Linked DNA regions of Homo sapiens. The protein of the gene in region 3 purifies or fractionates together with the protein of the main gene of each other region. This does not show direct contact. Each region holds a gene or a part of one and is shown on either strand. Other genes may lie near its edges.

Region 1 (3,500 bases), on a different chromosome or scaffold from region 3:
GTTCATGCCTGTAATCCCAGGACTTTGGGAGGCCGAGGCGGGTGAATCACCTGAGGTCAGGAGTTCAAGACCAGCCTGACCAGCATGGTGAAACCTTATCTCTACTAAAAATACAATAATTAGCCAGGCATGGTGGTGGGCACCTGTAATCCCAGCTACTCCAGAGACTAAGGCAGGAGAATCACTTGAACCTGGGAGGTGGAGGTTGCGGTGAACCCAGATCGAGCCACTGTACTCCAGCCTGGGTAACAGAGTGAGACTCTGTCTCGAGAAAAAGAAAAAAAAAAAGTACTATAAATTCTTTGATTAGAATTAGAAATCCTTAAATTGTAATTTGTATCTGTACTTATTATTATTTCACTTTATTATCCAGACCTGAGTTTAGGTTTTTAATTTTTTTGCCTAATAAAAACAATATCAAAAGTATTTCTTTTTGTTCTTAATAGTGTTTTCAGGTTTCTAATTCTCCCTTAGGCCTTTTAGGCCAATGTTTGTCTCCAATTTTGTATTCTATAAACTGGACCAAGTAAATGGACTGTCATTGACTCATTGAGCGCATAAAGAATCTTACAGAAAGATTGGAAGGGAAATACATTGAAGTACGAATTGTGATTTAGTTACGATAGGAGAATAAGAGTCAATGTGTTTTGTTTTTCAAATTGGCTGTATAATGTGGTTATTATAGCTTATGCATTGGAAACATAAAATACATTAATTTCACTATAGTTCATTAAGCAACCTCATCTGGAATCAACCAGTATATACAAAAATATTGTTAAATATTTTATTAGTAGAGTCATTTGTTTTCAGAAGTCATTTCAGGAAGCTTAAAGCCAATTCAGTTATTGTCATAGTCAGTTTTGTATTATAATAATGACTACCCATGTAATTTTAAAATCCTAGCACCTTTTTAGGGAACAGAGTAAAGAGGCTGATTTTTCATGTTAGGGGTGGATATTCTAAATGTGCTCCTCATTCTCATTTGGGAAAGTAAATAATTACTTAATGAGAAAGTTGGGCTTATACTGTAGTACTAGTAGGCCTTTACTATCTGCATGATGCAAAAGGAACACATAAAATTGTAATAATTGCATGTTCATTAAATGTTATGTAAAATTATTTGTATTTGCAAGTTATAGAACAACTTGAAGCAAATGACAATTTTTTTGGATTATGGATGGGACCTTTTTTTGGTAGAAATTGCACTCAAATATTAAATATACGTGGACTTCCATAGTACCTTACTAAACTTTATTTCTTATAGCAATTTTCAGTTTTATGCATTGTAATTATGTTTATACATATTTATTACCTTTACACACTTCAGATTTCTATAGAGTAGAAACCATTGAATTCAAAACTCTTCAAAAAAACAAGAAACTGTGATTTATGGAGTTTTCTATTCCTCACATTGCCTTAAATACAGTTAAGTGTGCAGTAAATGGTTATTGACTAAATAAACTGAATGTTATTTAGTTACAGTTGTCTCTGAGGGTTTTTCCCCTTAGACATTTGATTATGAAAATTTTCAAATGCTCACAAAAGTTGAAGGAATTGACATGTGAATGCTCATTTACCCATCACCTAGATTATACAATCTACATTTTGCTTTGTTTGCTTGAACTCATATCCCTCTATGCGTTTACCCATTTATCAGTTGATTTATTTTTTATTCATTTTATGCATTTCGAAAGTAAAGTACAGGCATTTGTGAAGAGTGTAAAGTTGTTTAACCTCTATATTTCAAGGTATATCCCTTGAAAACAAAGTCAGTGAGAAAATGAAATTTGATAAACATTTACTTATGCACAGCGTTTTCAGAAGCAAATTTAAAGAACAAACTGTGTCCAAGGACTGAATTGATTTATTGTAAATTGTTAGGAAATACAAAATAGCATTTTTTTTTTTTTTTTGCGTAACATACCTTTGTTACAAGTTCATTTTATATGTAAGTAAGGTATGAAGAAAAGCAACTCTTAAAGTAGAAATAATTTATCTTGGAAAGTAGTTTGTTACCTATCTCTGTGAGATTGATCCATTTATGTACTCAATAAATAATTTTTAAAGACATAATTTATCTGGCACTGTGTTAAGTAGCAAAGATAATGTGCCTTTATCAAACCATCTGTGATCATTCCATTATTATTATTGTTTTTACATTTACCATGCTACAAAAGAACCCTTGGTAAAATCACCATGAAATTTCATGGAGTTAACAAATTAGATAAAGTTACATGAAAGCAGCAATTTTTTATCTGTGAATGTATTAATTGATGAGAATACAGGAAGTTATTATTTTCCAGAGGTAGTGAGGATGCCAGACATGTGAGTAAATATTTTCAGTGCAACATAAGTGCTAGAATAGAAACATGTACAAAGTGATTCGAAAGGTTTGAGAGGAGAGTTGCTAAAAGCCTACAGGTGTTGAAGAGAAGATCCCAGAGGTAACATTTGAACTTGTTTGAATAATTTTTGAGATGGGAGACAGTGGTTTTTAGGTGGAGGACACTGCCTAACAATAAATATATTAGATGCGTGCCTTGGAGGAAGTACATGGCTGGAGGATAAGGTAGATGAAAAGAGATGGTTGAAATCACTTATGGAAGGAGTTAGGATGCTTTTGCTATGTCTTTGTAGACCTTGCAAGCTTGTCCAATGCACCTTATTTTGTTGCTGTTGTTGTTCTGTTTTGCTTTGTTTTAGTCTTTTAGCTGCCCAAAGCCATGGTTTTTAGTTTCTGTCTCCAGTGATAAGTGGAAAAGAGGGGTGATAAAGGGGCTTTACTGGCCTAACCAGAAACAGAAACTAAGGACTCATGACTGTATTCTCTCCCTTAGACACCCCTAATTAGGTTTTTAGACAGGTCATATCATTTGAAAAGATAACTCTAGCATCAGTAGTTGAGATGGGTTAGATAGAGAGACATTGACTAATAGATGTGAAGTAGTTGTCCAGGTGAGATGATAATCTAGACTAAGGCAGCAGTAGTAGAGAGATGAATGGGAAAATAGTACATTTGAGTATTAGAGAAACAGAAATATAGTCAGGCATGTGGTATACACCTGTAGTCCCATGGACTTGGGAGGCTGAGGTAGGAGGATTGCTTGAGCCTTGGAGTTTCAGGCCAGCCTGGGCAATATAGTAAGATCCTGTCTCAAAGAATAAATAGAAACAAATAACATGGGTAACTGGTTGGTTGTGGATGGAGGAGGAGATAAAGGGCTCAGTGACTTAAAGATTTCTAGAGCAGTTAATTGGGTACAGGTGGGTGCTACTGCTCCCACCTCCCACAAAACAGATTCATTTGACATGTTTATTTTGGAGTTCCTATAGAAAGTCCAAGTATAGGATCTAGCATTTAGAGTGGTCTGAGACTTCATAGGGATCTATTGGACATTATATCAAATTTGCCTCTGCAATTTTTCATACCACTAAGCTTCTCTACACAGGCTTCTCTACAAAGGCTTGTGGCTTAAAAAAGAAAAATGATGTTTTAAAAG
Region 2 (2,485 bases), on a different chromosome or scaffold from region 3:
CCTCGATGAGCAGAGAAGAGCCACCAGGGCCTCGACCCTCATACAGCAAATAAGTGTCCTTGGATTTCTGCAATAAACAACACAAGCACATTTTCCTGTTTCCCAATTCCTTCCCACATGTCAGCCCAGAACTACAAGTATCGCAAAACTAACTCCATGGGATGGGCTCTCTAGGCTGGAGCCTGAGCTCTCAATCTTTATTTTTGTCCCCACCCTCTAACCAACTTTTGAGGTAACAGGAAGTACTACCCCTAACTTGGAAGGAGTCTGTTTCTCCGGTCCCTGAACAATCCATCAGCCATCTCTCAGCTTTGCTTCCTACCATCCCTAACCAAATGCCACATCTAGTCCCTACCCAATCCCACTCAGACTCATCCTCCTACACCCCCATCCTGTAAGAAACCCACCGGTCAAGTCTCAAGGTCCCTACCCTGGGCTGCTGAGTACTGCTGTGAAATATCACACACCTAGGCCTTGTCGTAAGAGCTGCTGAAAACAGCATGGTCTCAAAATTGAAACAATTAATCCAGAGCTCTAGGGACTAATCTCTTCTGGACCTTCCATGCCCCTACTCATCCCTTGTCCATGTATTCAATATTCCCCACTCCAAGCACCCTGTCCTGCAACTTTCCAGGAATTCTCAACTCATAACTTCTCCCTTCCTCTTTCACAAAGGTAAAAAGGGCCACTAGGTGGGGAAAATAGTTGCTGTCTCCACCACCTTCTCTGCACCATGGCCTACATGAAGGCAATAAGCATAACGGTTAGAGCACAGGCTCTAAAGTCTGACTATCTGGTTTCAAGTCTGTCATTTTCTATGCGACTTGAGTCAACTCACCTAACATTCCTGTGCCTCAGTTTCTACTTACGGTGGTTTTGAGGATTCGATGAGATAACACACATAGAGTTTTTATCCATGCTTAGCCTGCAGGAAGCACTCAATAATTTTGAGCTATTAAGATAACTATTACTTCCTCAGAGCCTCCCTACCTGCCCCAGAGAAAGGTGTACCCTTACGTGGACTCTATATACCTGCCCCTCCCACCATCTCTATCACCCCCATCCTCTCCCTTTCTACTGGCTTTTCTCCTTTAGGGCATAAACATCTGAAAAACAAACACTTCCTCCACCTAACGTAAGGGCTTTCTCCCACACTGCCCCTTCTTTCTATAATACCTCATCTCCCTACAACTTGGCTGAGCAGTCCCGGTCTTGACTGTATGGCCCTGCATACTGCCTATGCATCCTACTCCCAGTTGTGCTCCTAGAACCAATGACCAAGGACGGTGAGCTCTCAGAAGACTCTAGGCTGAGGGCGTCAACTACATTGCTACCGTTCTCTCTGATAATTTTTTTTTTTTTTTTTGAGACAGAGTCTCGCTCTGTCGCCCAGGCTGGAGTGCAGTGGTGCAATCTCGGCTCACCGCAATCTCTACCTCCTGGGTTCAAGCGATCCTCCACCTCAGCCTCCCCAGTAGCTGGGATTACAAGCATATGCCACCACGCCCAGCTAATTTTTGTATTTTTAGTAGAGATGGAGTTTCACCATGCTGGCCAGGCTGGTCTCCAAACTCCTGGCCTCAAGTGATCCACCCACCTTAGCCTCCCAAAGTGCTGGGATTATAGTCGTGAGCCACTGCACTTGGCCCCTCTGATAATTTACAGTGTGTTTGTTGGCCATCCAGACATGAGCCCGGTAGAGGCTGTGATCAATAAAAAGCATGTCAAACAGTACACACCTCCATTTTCAGTGCTGTCTCAATCGTTGACTTGGGCATATGTTTGCTGCGACACACCTCTAAGATATTGGCCAGGTTGCTGTTGTGCTCAGGGTTGGGGCCTCCTTCTGAGATTTAAAGAAAAAGAAAAAAAAGAGTGAGCAAAGACATCTCATTACAACATGGGAGAATAAAAGGGATTTCCAGCCCCACCAAGCCAAAGGAGTGGCAAATCACCATTTAGCTCTCAGTTACCTTAGAATACCTTAACTAGTGTTTCAGTGGGATACGGAGAAGTATTTTCGGGTTTTTTTGGTTTGTTTTTTGAGATGGAGTCTCACTCTGTTGCTGGCTGGAGTGCAGTGGCACGATCTTGGCTCACTGCAACATCCACCTCCTGGGTTCAAGTGATTCTCCTGCCTCAGCCTCCTGAGTAGCTGGGATTACAGGTGCACACCACCACACCCGGCTAATTTTTGTATTTTTAGTAGAGACCAGGTTTCGCCATGTTGGCCAGGCTGGTCTCGAACTCCTGACCTCAGGTGATCCACACACCTTGGCCTCCGAAAGTGCTGGGATTACAAGTGTGAGCCACTGCCCCTGGCCTGGATAAGTATTTTGGAAAAGTACTTTTTTTTTTTTTGAGACAAAGTCTCACTTTGTCACCCAGGCTGGAGTGCAGTGGCATGATTTTAGCTCACTGTAGCCTCAACCTCCAGGGTTCAAGCGATCCTCCTGCCTCAGCCTCCCAAGTAGCTGGGACCACT
Region 3 (3,500 bases):
TCAGGCAAGGATTGTCAATGGATGCTAAATCTATGGAGGTAAAGTGTGATAAGGAGAAGGATATTTACATGATCTTAAGGTGTTACCTTCAGATTGCTAATTAGTTACAAGGGGAAAATAGTGACTGTATAGTGGAGAAACCAGACAATACCTTGACTGGGTGATCAAAATTTACATCACCACTGAGGGGCAGGTCGACACCACATGTGTCCAGATGTGGCCCCAGAGAAGAACTCTTATGTAGGATTTGACCAGAGATGCATAATCCAAATCTAATCATGAAGAAACACCAGATAAACCCATGCTGAAGAAAACTGTATAAAGGAACTGGACTGTGTTGTTCAAAAATGTCAATGTCATGAAAGACAAAGAAAAGCTGGAGAACTGTTCCAGATTAAAGGAGACTAAAGTCATGACAACTAAATGCAGTATGAGGTTCTGTACTGGAGAACAACAAAATGCTTTAGAAGGCCATTATTGATACAACTGGCAAAACTGGAATACGGACTGTAGTTCAGATTAAATATTGCACCAATGTTAAATTTGATATTAGGTTGGTGCAAGAGTTCAATTGCGATTTTAGCCATTACTTTTAATGGCAAGAGTTCAATTGCGATTTTAGCTATTACTTTTAATGGCAAAAACCATAATTACTCTTGCACCAACCTAACAGATGTGTTTACATAAAAAGAATATCTTTTATTCTTAGAAAATACTCACTACTGAAGAAGCATGGTATATGCAACCATATTCTCAAATGACTCAGAAAAAAGTGTGTATGTGTGTGTATGCAAGTTGTACTCACGTGAATACTCACACACCCACACAGAGAGAGAAGGAATGATATCATTGTGGCTAAATGTTAAAAATTGATGCACTGGGTAAAGGGTTTATGGTTGTTCCTTACACCATTGTTGCGACTTTTCTGTATGTCTGAAATTATTTCAAAATAACAAGTTACAAAAAATTTAAAATTAAAAAAAAAGTGCTGTATCCCCATCATGTGCTCTGGACTGTGTTAGGGAACAAAAAAGTGTCCTCATGATAATCAACACACTAATGTTGAAAGAGCATGTGAAGTGTCTGAATAAAAGTGTGTGACATGAGAGTGCAAAAAAACAACATTGATTTTATATATGTAAGTGAATGATATATTAACAAATTAAGTATTATAGGTGGACTTTGAACTATATTTTTAGAGTCCTAAAAATTTATATTTTCAAGTAGACCTAAAACCTTTTGCAGGGATCTTCTCACTGGGCAAAGAGGGGATCACTTTGTATTCAGGCATATACAAAACACACAGCTGAAGTAGCTACATTTCTTATAAACCTCAACAGGCTCATCTCTGTAAGAATAAGGAATGTAATCCTCATCACAGCCAATACTCCAACACCACTACTGCCCCAGTTACCAGGAAACTTAAGTCCAAACAAATTTTTGAGTAATTACTAAATAGAATAATTAGTGAAACCAAGTATTTCTATTCTATCCCATCGGAAAGCTATTAGGAGTGAAGACATCTGCCTAACTCTACATGAAGAGCAGGACATGAAAGAACACAAAACCTGCAAAAATCTGAAAAGACCAATGTTCTCTACCAAAGGACTAGGAGAAGAATTACCCACTAAAGAAAAAAACATTCACTTTCTTTCGTTCCTAGCATTGCATACACGAATTAAGTCTGAATGTGCTATCCTAAACGGCACGGCCCCATCACAGAGCCTTTCCCCAGCCATAAGGCATGAACTTGTGAGTCATCACTAAAATGTCCATGTTAGCAGCACCTGGCATTCCTTTCCTAGACATCACTGGCAGAACAATGAGTATTCTTGGCTCTTTTTTTTTTTTCTTTTAAGAGACAGGGTCTTGCTCTGTCACCCAGGCTGGAGTACAGTGGTGGCAATCTCAGCTCACTGCAGCCTCCACCTCCTGAGCTCTTATAAACCTCAACAGGCTCACTCCGGTAAGCAATCCTCCCACCTCAGCCTCCCAAGTAGCTGGGCCCACAGGTGCACACCACCACACCTGGCTACTTTTTGTATTTTTGTAGAGACAGGGTTTCACTATGTTGCCCAGGCTGGTCTTGAACTCCTGAGCTCAAGCAATCCACCGACCTCAGCCTCCAAAAGTGCTGGGATTACAGACGTGAGCCACCGCATGCAGCCTTCTTCTTGGCTCTTGAAGTGAGCCTTTGTTCCTACTTTTCATAAAATTCAAGTGTTGGAATGAAATGAGTTGAGGAGAAGAGGAAAAAGGCCTAAGTCATGATTGTTTGGGCCTTGCTGAAACAATGTCAAATGAAAACAGAATCACCAAGTATTAAGTCTACCAAAGGATACACTGCTGATAGATAACAGGGGCCTAGCATGTAAGACCTTTCCAAGGCTGCTATGCTCAGGGTATGGTACATAAAGCTGGACTAGGGGTACAGGAACCCCAAGAGTAGAGTAACATTAGAGAGAGAAGAGCAACCACAGAGCCTTAAAGAATTGCAGGTTCCCAAAGGAATTCCCATTCATAAAGAAAAACAAAGGTAGACAAGATTCTGTGGACATCATCTTTCTCTTTGGAAAGGTGAACTATAAAATTGTTCTTGTTATCCAAGCATGTATCTACAGTAAGGTAGGCACTGCTGAATACATCCTCCACCTTCTAGGTAAGAGGCCTGAGTACATCCCAAGCTGTTGCTAGTCAAAGCACTCACGTTTCTCCTGCACGTAGAGGTATCCCTCCATGGTGTAGGGACTGATGGTCTTGTGCTCAAGGGGATTCTCCTTCATCTTTTTCATCAGTGATTCCACTTCTGATCTAGTGCCTTCAAAGCGATTTCTTGTCTAGGATGAAAATAATTTTATTCAAATCAAAGAAACAAAGTATCTGTTTTAACAATCCAGATCAACCTAATAGAATCCTTAGATCTAAAATGAGATAAAGGACATTCAACCTTCCAGGAACTGGCCAAATACTCCCTTATGACAAGTATACTTTGGCCTTAAAGTCCTATACCAGAATGACTCTCAAACTCTAGTGACTATCAAAATCACCTAGGGATCTTATAGAAAATGCAAATGCCCAGCCCTCACTCCTACAGATCAATTCAGCACCTCTGGATGCCAAAAAGTGTGTTTTACGATAAGCCTCCCAGGTGATTCTGATTCAGATGCTCTAGGGGCCTGTATGACTTAAGGACCTAGGCGTTCATTTCTCCAGCTGCCATGAATGTTGCTTGCTGATGGCTCACAGATGAGTCCCTCCTTAAAAGGGGAGTTCCTTCACTCAAGGTCAGCCTGCACCCAATGACTAGACAAGGCTAGAGGAAAGGCAGAAGGGGGTTGAAAGCCTGGCCCCCTTGCTTGTATTCAGGGCGACTTTGAAGGATCATCCCAGCTCCAGAGCCTCCCCTGCACTGAGACCTCTGCTGCATCTGCATCACAGCTCTATTTCCCCCTCTGCGAGTCCAGGTGCCCTCACTCTGTCACAGGTGTTTTCACCAGCAT
Region 4 (3,500 bases), on a different chromosome or scaffold from region 3:
TCTATGAAAATGAAAGAACCCTCTGCATTTAAGTGCCTTTCTTTATAGAATTTCTATCTTCTTTCACATCAACAAGCCTCTAAATACTTGAAAAACAAATTATCTGATGTAACACTTCGATATGGTTTGACTCTGTGTTCCCACCCAAATCTCATCTTGAATTGTAATTCCCACATGGGAGGTGATTAGATCATGGGGGCGGTTCCCCCATGCTGCTCTTGTGATAGTGAGCAAGTTCTCATGAGATCTGATGGTTTAAATGTCTGTGGCTATTCCCCCTTGCTCTCTCTCTCTCTCTCTCTCTCTCTCTCTCTCTCTCTCTCCTGTGGCCACATAAGATGTGCCTTGCTTTCCATTTACGTTCTGCCACGATTGTAGGTTTCCTGTGGCCTCCCGAGCTATGCAGAAGTGAGTCAATTAAACCTCTCTTGTTTATACATTACCCAGTCTCAGGGATTTCTTTATAGCAGTGTTAAAATGGACTAATACAAACTTGTAATGTGGTCAGATGTCTATAACTAGATTTTAGTCTGCCAATATTTTAATATTGTCTCTTATCGATCAAAAAGTTTAGGTTAACTGTTACTTCTTAATTTCAACTGAAGCCTCCACAGCCTTCCCAAACAAACAAACAAACAAAAATACAAAGTATAATGTTGTTTTATTGGAAATGAAGAACACAGGGACGCTATACATGAAGATGGTCGCTGTAATTTATCATTTACCTTAATAAAACTATTCGCCTAAAATATTTCTAAACAACTTTTGGTAAATTAATTCTTAAAAAATTGCCATTTGAACAGTACATATAGTCAAATACAGATGAAGTACATATACTATGCCGTAATACAGGTCAGACATATTTTTCTAGTATTTTCAAGTGAGAAATGCAAGGTAGTGGGAATAAAGTCACGACACTTCACTCAAGGTCACAAATGCCACTATAAGATCAGAAAGACACAAGAGTTCTATTGACTTGACTTCATTTGTAATAGAAGCCTATTTTCTTTCGGTTACTAGTGTACTCTATATTTACCTGTATTTATACTTTCCACTCTTAAAGGGAAACCAGACTGGGCAACAGCTACAAGTTTCAAAGCAATGTAGAACTGACTTCTTCCAAAATAACCAAGTCTTGTTGCACCACAAAGCTCCATGATCTATAAAATAACATAATGTTAACATTAAGATTCACAACAAAAATCTCCCTTCAAAAATAAGCAGCTACCCAACTTGTTTGTAACGTCTCAAAATATCTATCTAATAGATGGTATAATACTCACAACTGACAACCAACTTCCTCAAGTTTCAGGTTCATATGTTTACAAACAAAAAGTCACTGCTTTGCAATAAGGTCATCATTCTCCTATTTATCAAAATCCATATGATTAGCAATTTTCTTAGAATAAATTTTTGTTATGAGTCACATTTTTAAAGAAACAACGTACCACCCACTCTTATTCATAAGCACTGCACATACAATAGGACCATGTGACTAAGAGACTATTATGCAGCCATTTAAAGTGACGGTCTTTAAATGATATAACAACATGGAAAAATACTAAGGATTTATCAAGTGGGGAAGAAAGGCAAGATACCTAATTTTAACCACATAAATACAAATTTGGAAACTATTTTTTAAAAGTCTATCACAATTTTTTCAGATGAGATTGAGTCGGGTTTTCCCTCTTATTTTCCAAATGTGTTTAATATGGCTACACTACTCTTCTTTAAAACAAACAAAATTTGTCTTTTTTAGAGCATGAAAGTGTTCAAGGATCTACATTAATCATTCCAGTCTTTCAACAAGTATTTCTAGACTTGCTAGCACAAGTAAATATTAGACTCAAAAAATAGGATTTCAGATTACAAAATCATAACTCTAAAAGCTGGAGGTTTCTACTATGCAGATATTATAATCTTATCTTAAAATAAACACTAGGCATGCCTGTTGTATCTTTTCAAATAACACAAACTTTTGTATAGAGAGAGCAGTTTTAGTCTATTTTTCCATAACACTCAAAGGAAGATAAGGTATCTGAGATGCTGTGGTATTAAGTCTGAATAAAACTATTCACAGGACTTCAAAAAAAGGACCTATTAATGATTAAGCAATTGTATCACAACAATAACAGCCATTTATTTACATACACAAAAAAGAGTCATTTTTGCTGGCTGACCAGCACTGGAAGAAGTTCCTGTTCCTGCCACTAAGGAGCATGTCCTTCTGAAGAAATGTAAAAGGGCAAAGAGAATAAACAGGCAGGTTAACACCATCAAGGGAACTATGAGGAAAAGGGGAGTTTAAAAAGGCAAGGTCATGCAGCCCCAATCCTCTACTCTTCTGCCCACTTGACGCCTCTTAGAGGTTCATTACATATCTTAAATACTTTTGTTTATATAACAATGCAACTAACATATGCCAGGTATATGCTAGACAGAGGGAAGACCTAAAAGGAGATCACAGTATGGTTTGTTGACATTTTGGGAAGACACCAGGGAAATGGTTAGAAATGAGGAGGTAGTGTTCAAGAAGGGAAACAGAATCTCAATGCTGTTTTAATTGGTATTTATTAAAAGTTTTATATTTGTTAGCCATTTGCATTTCTTTTCCTGACTTGCCCAACTTGTTCTCTGGCAACTTTAAATGGACTGTTAATCTTCTTTACTCATTTTAAGAAGTTTTATTGTGGCCAGGGGTAGTGGCTCATGCCTGTAATCACAGCACTTTGGGAGGCCAAGGAGGGCAGATTACTTGGGATCAAGAGTTCAAGACCAGTCTGGCCAACACGGTGAAACCCATGTCTACTAAAAATACAAAAGTTAGCCAGGTGTGGTGGTGCGCACTGGTAATTCTAAGTACTCGGGGGGCTGAGGTGAGAGGATCATTTGAACTCGGGAGATGGAGGTTGCAGTGAGCCGAGATCATGCCACTGCCCTCCAGACTGGGTGACAGACTGAAACTCCATCTCATAAAAAAAAAAAAGGTTTTATTATATTATACATATTGACCTGCAAACTGTCATGGAATTAATTCATTTATTCAATGACTATTTACTGAGCATCCTCAGGAAGGAAAGACCAGAGTGTAGCTGTAAGTGTGTGTAGAATTGATGGGGAGGAGGGAATGCAGCAGATGGAGCTGATGACTTAGGCAGAAACCAGATCATATTGCACATGTTGTTTTCTAGTTTATCTGTTTTTTCCAAAAAAGCTGTTTTGGTGATACAGAATTTTCCAATTTTTATACAAGCTTGTCATTTCCCCTTTAGGACTTTTGGGTTTGCTAGACTTAGAAAAAAGGTCTTTATACATGTTTTCTTCTAGAATGTTTATGATTAATATTGAAAATATACAAGTCTGACCAAACTGGAATTTATTTTGGAATGAGAAACAAATCAGATATCCTTTTGATCCTCCTCAATAGTTAACTATTGAGGCCAGGAGCAGTGGTTCATGCCTGTAATTGCAACACTCTGGGAGGCCAAGGTAGGAGGACT

Evidence for each region.
Region 1: the proteins of ARHGAP26 (region 3) and FIP1L1 purify together in Homo sapiens (affinity purification with mass spectrometry, with the first as the bait; one large-scale study listed by BioGRID). This does not show direct contact.
Region 2: the proteins of ARHGAP26 (region 3) and TACO1 purify together in Homo sapiens (affinity purification with mass spectrometry; one large-scale study listed by BioGRID and IntAct). This does not show direct contact.
Region 4: the proteins of ARHGAP26 (region 3) and REPS1 purify together in Homo sapiens (affinity purification with mass spectrometry, with the first as the bait; one large-scale study listed by BioGRID). This does not show direct contact.

Annotation. Positions count from the first base shown.
Region 1 is NC_000004.12:53,384,141-53,387,640, forward strand, and holds part of FIP1L1 (pre-mRNA 3'-end-processing factor FIP1), read left to right. Parts: intron 1-3,500.
Region 2 is NC_000017.11:63,603,895-63,606,379, reverse strand, and holds part of TACO1 (translational activator of cytochrome c oxidase 1), read right to left. Parts: intron 1,847-2,485; coding exon 1,740-1,846; intron 68-1,739; coding exon 1-67. UniProt on the Homo sapiens protein: Acts as a translational activator of mitochondrially-encoded cytochrome c oxidase 1.
Region 3 is NC_000005.10:142,902,877-142,906,376, reverse strand, and holds part of ARHGAP26 (rho GTPase-activating protein 26), read right to left. Parts: intron 2,838-3,500; coding exon 2,708-2,837; intron 1-2,707. UniProt on the Homo sapiens protein: GTPase-activating protein for RHOA and CDC42. Facilitates mitochondrial quality control by promoting Parkin-mediated recruitment of autophagosomes to damaged mitochondria.
Region 4 is NC_000006.12:138,946,754-138,950,253, forward strand, and holds part of REPS1 (ralBP1-associated Eps domain-containing protein 1), read right to left. Parts: intron 1,161-3,500; coding exon 1,037-1,160; intron 1-1,036. UniProt on the Homo sapiens protein: May coordinate the cellular actions of activated EGF receptors and Ral-GTPases.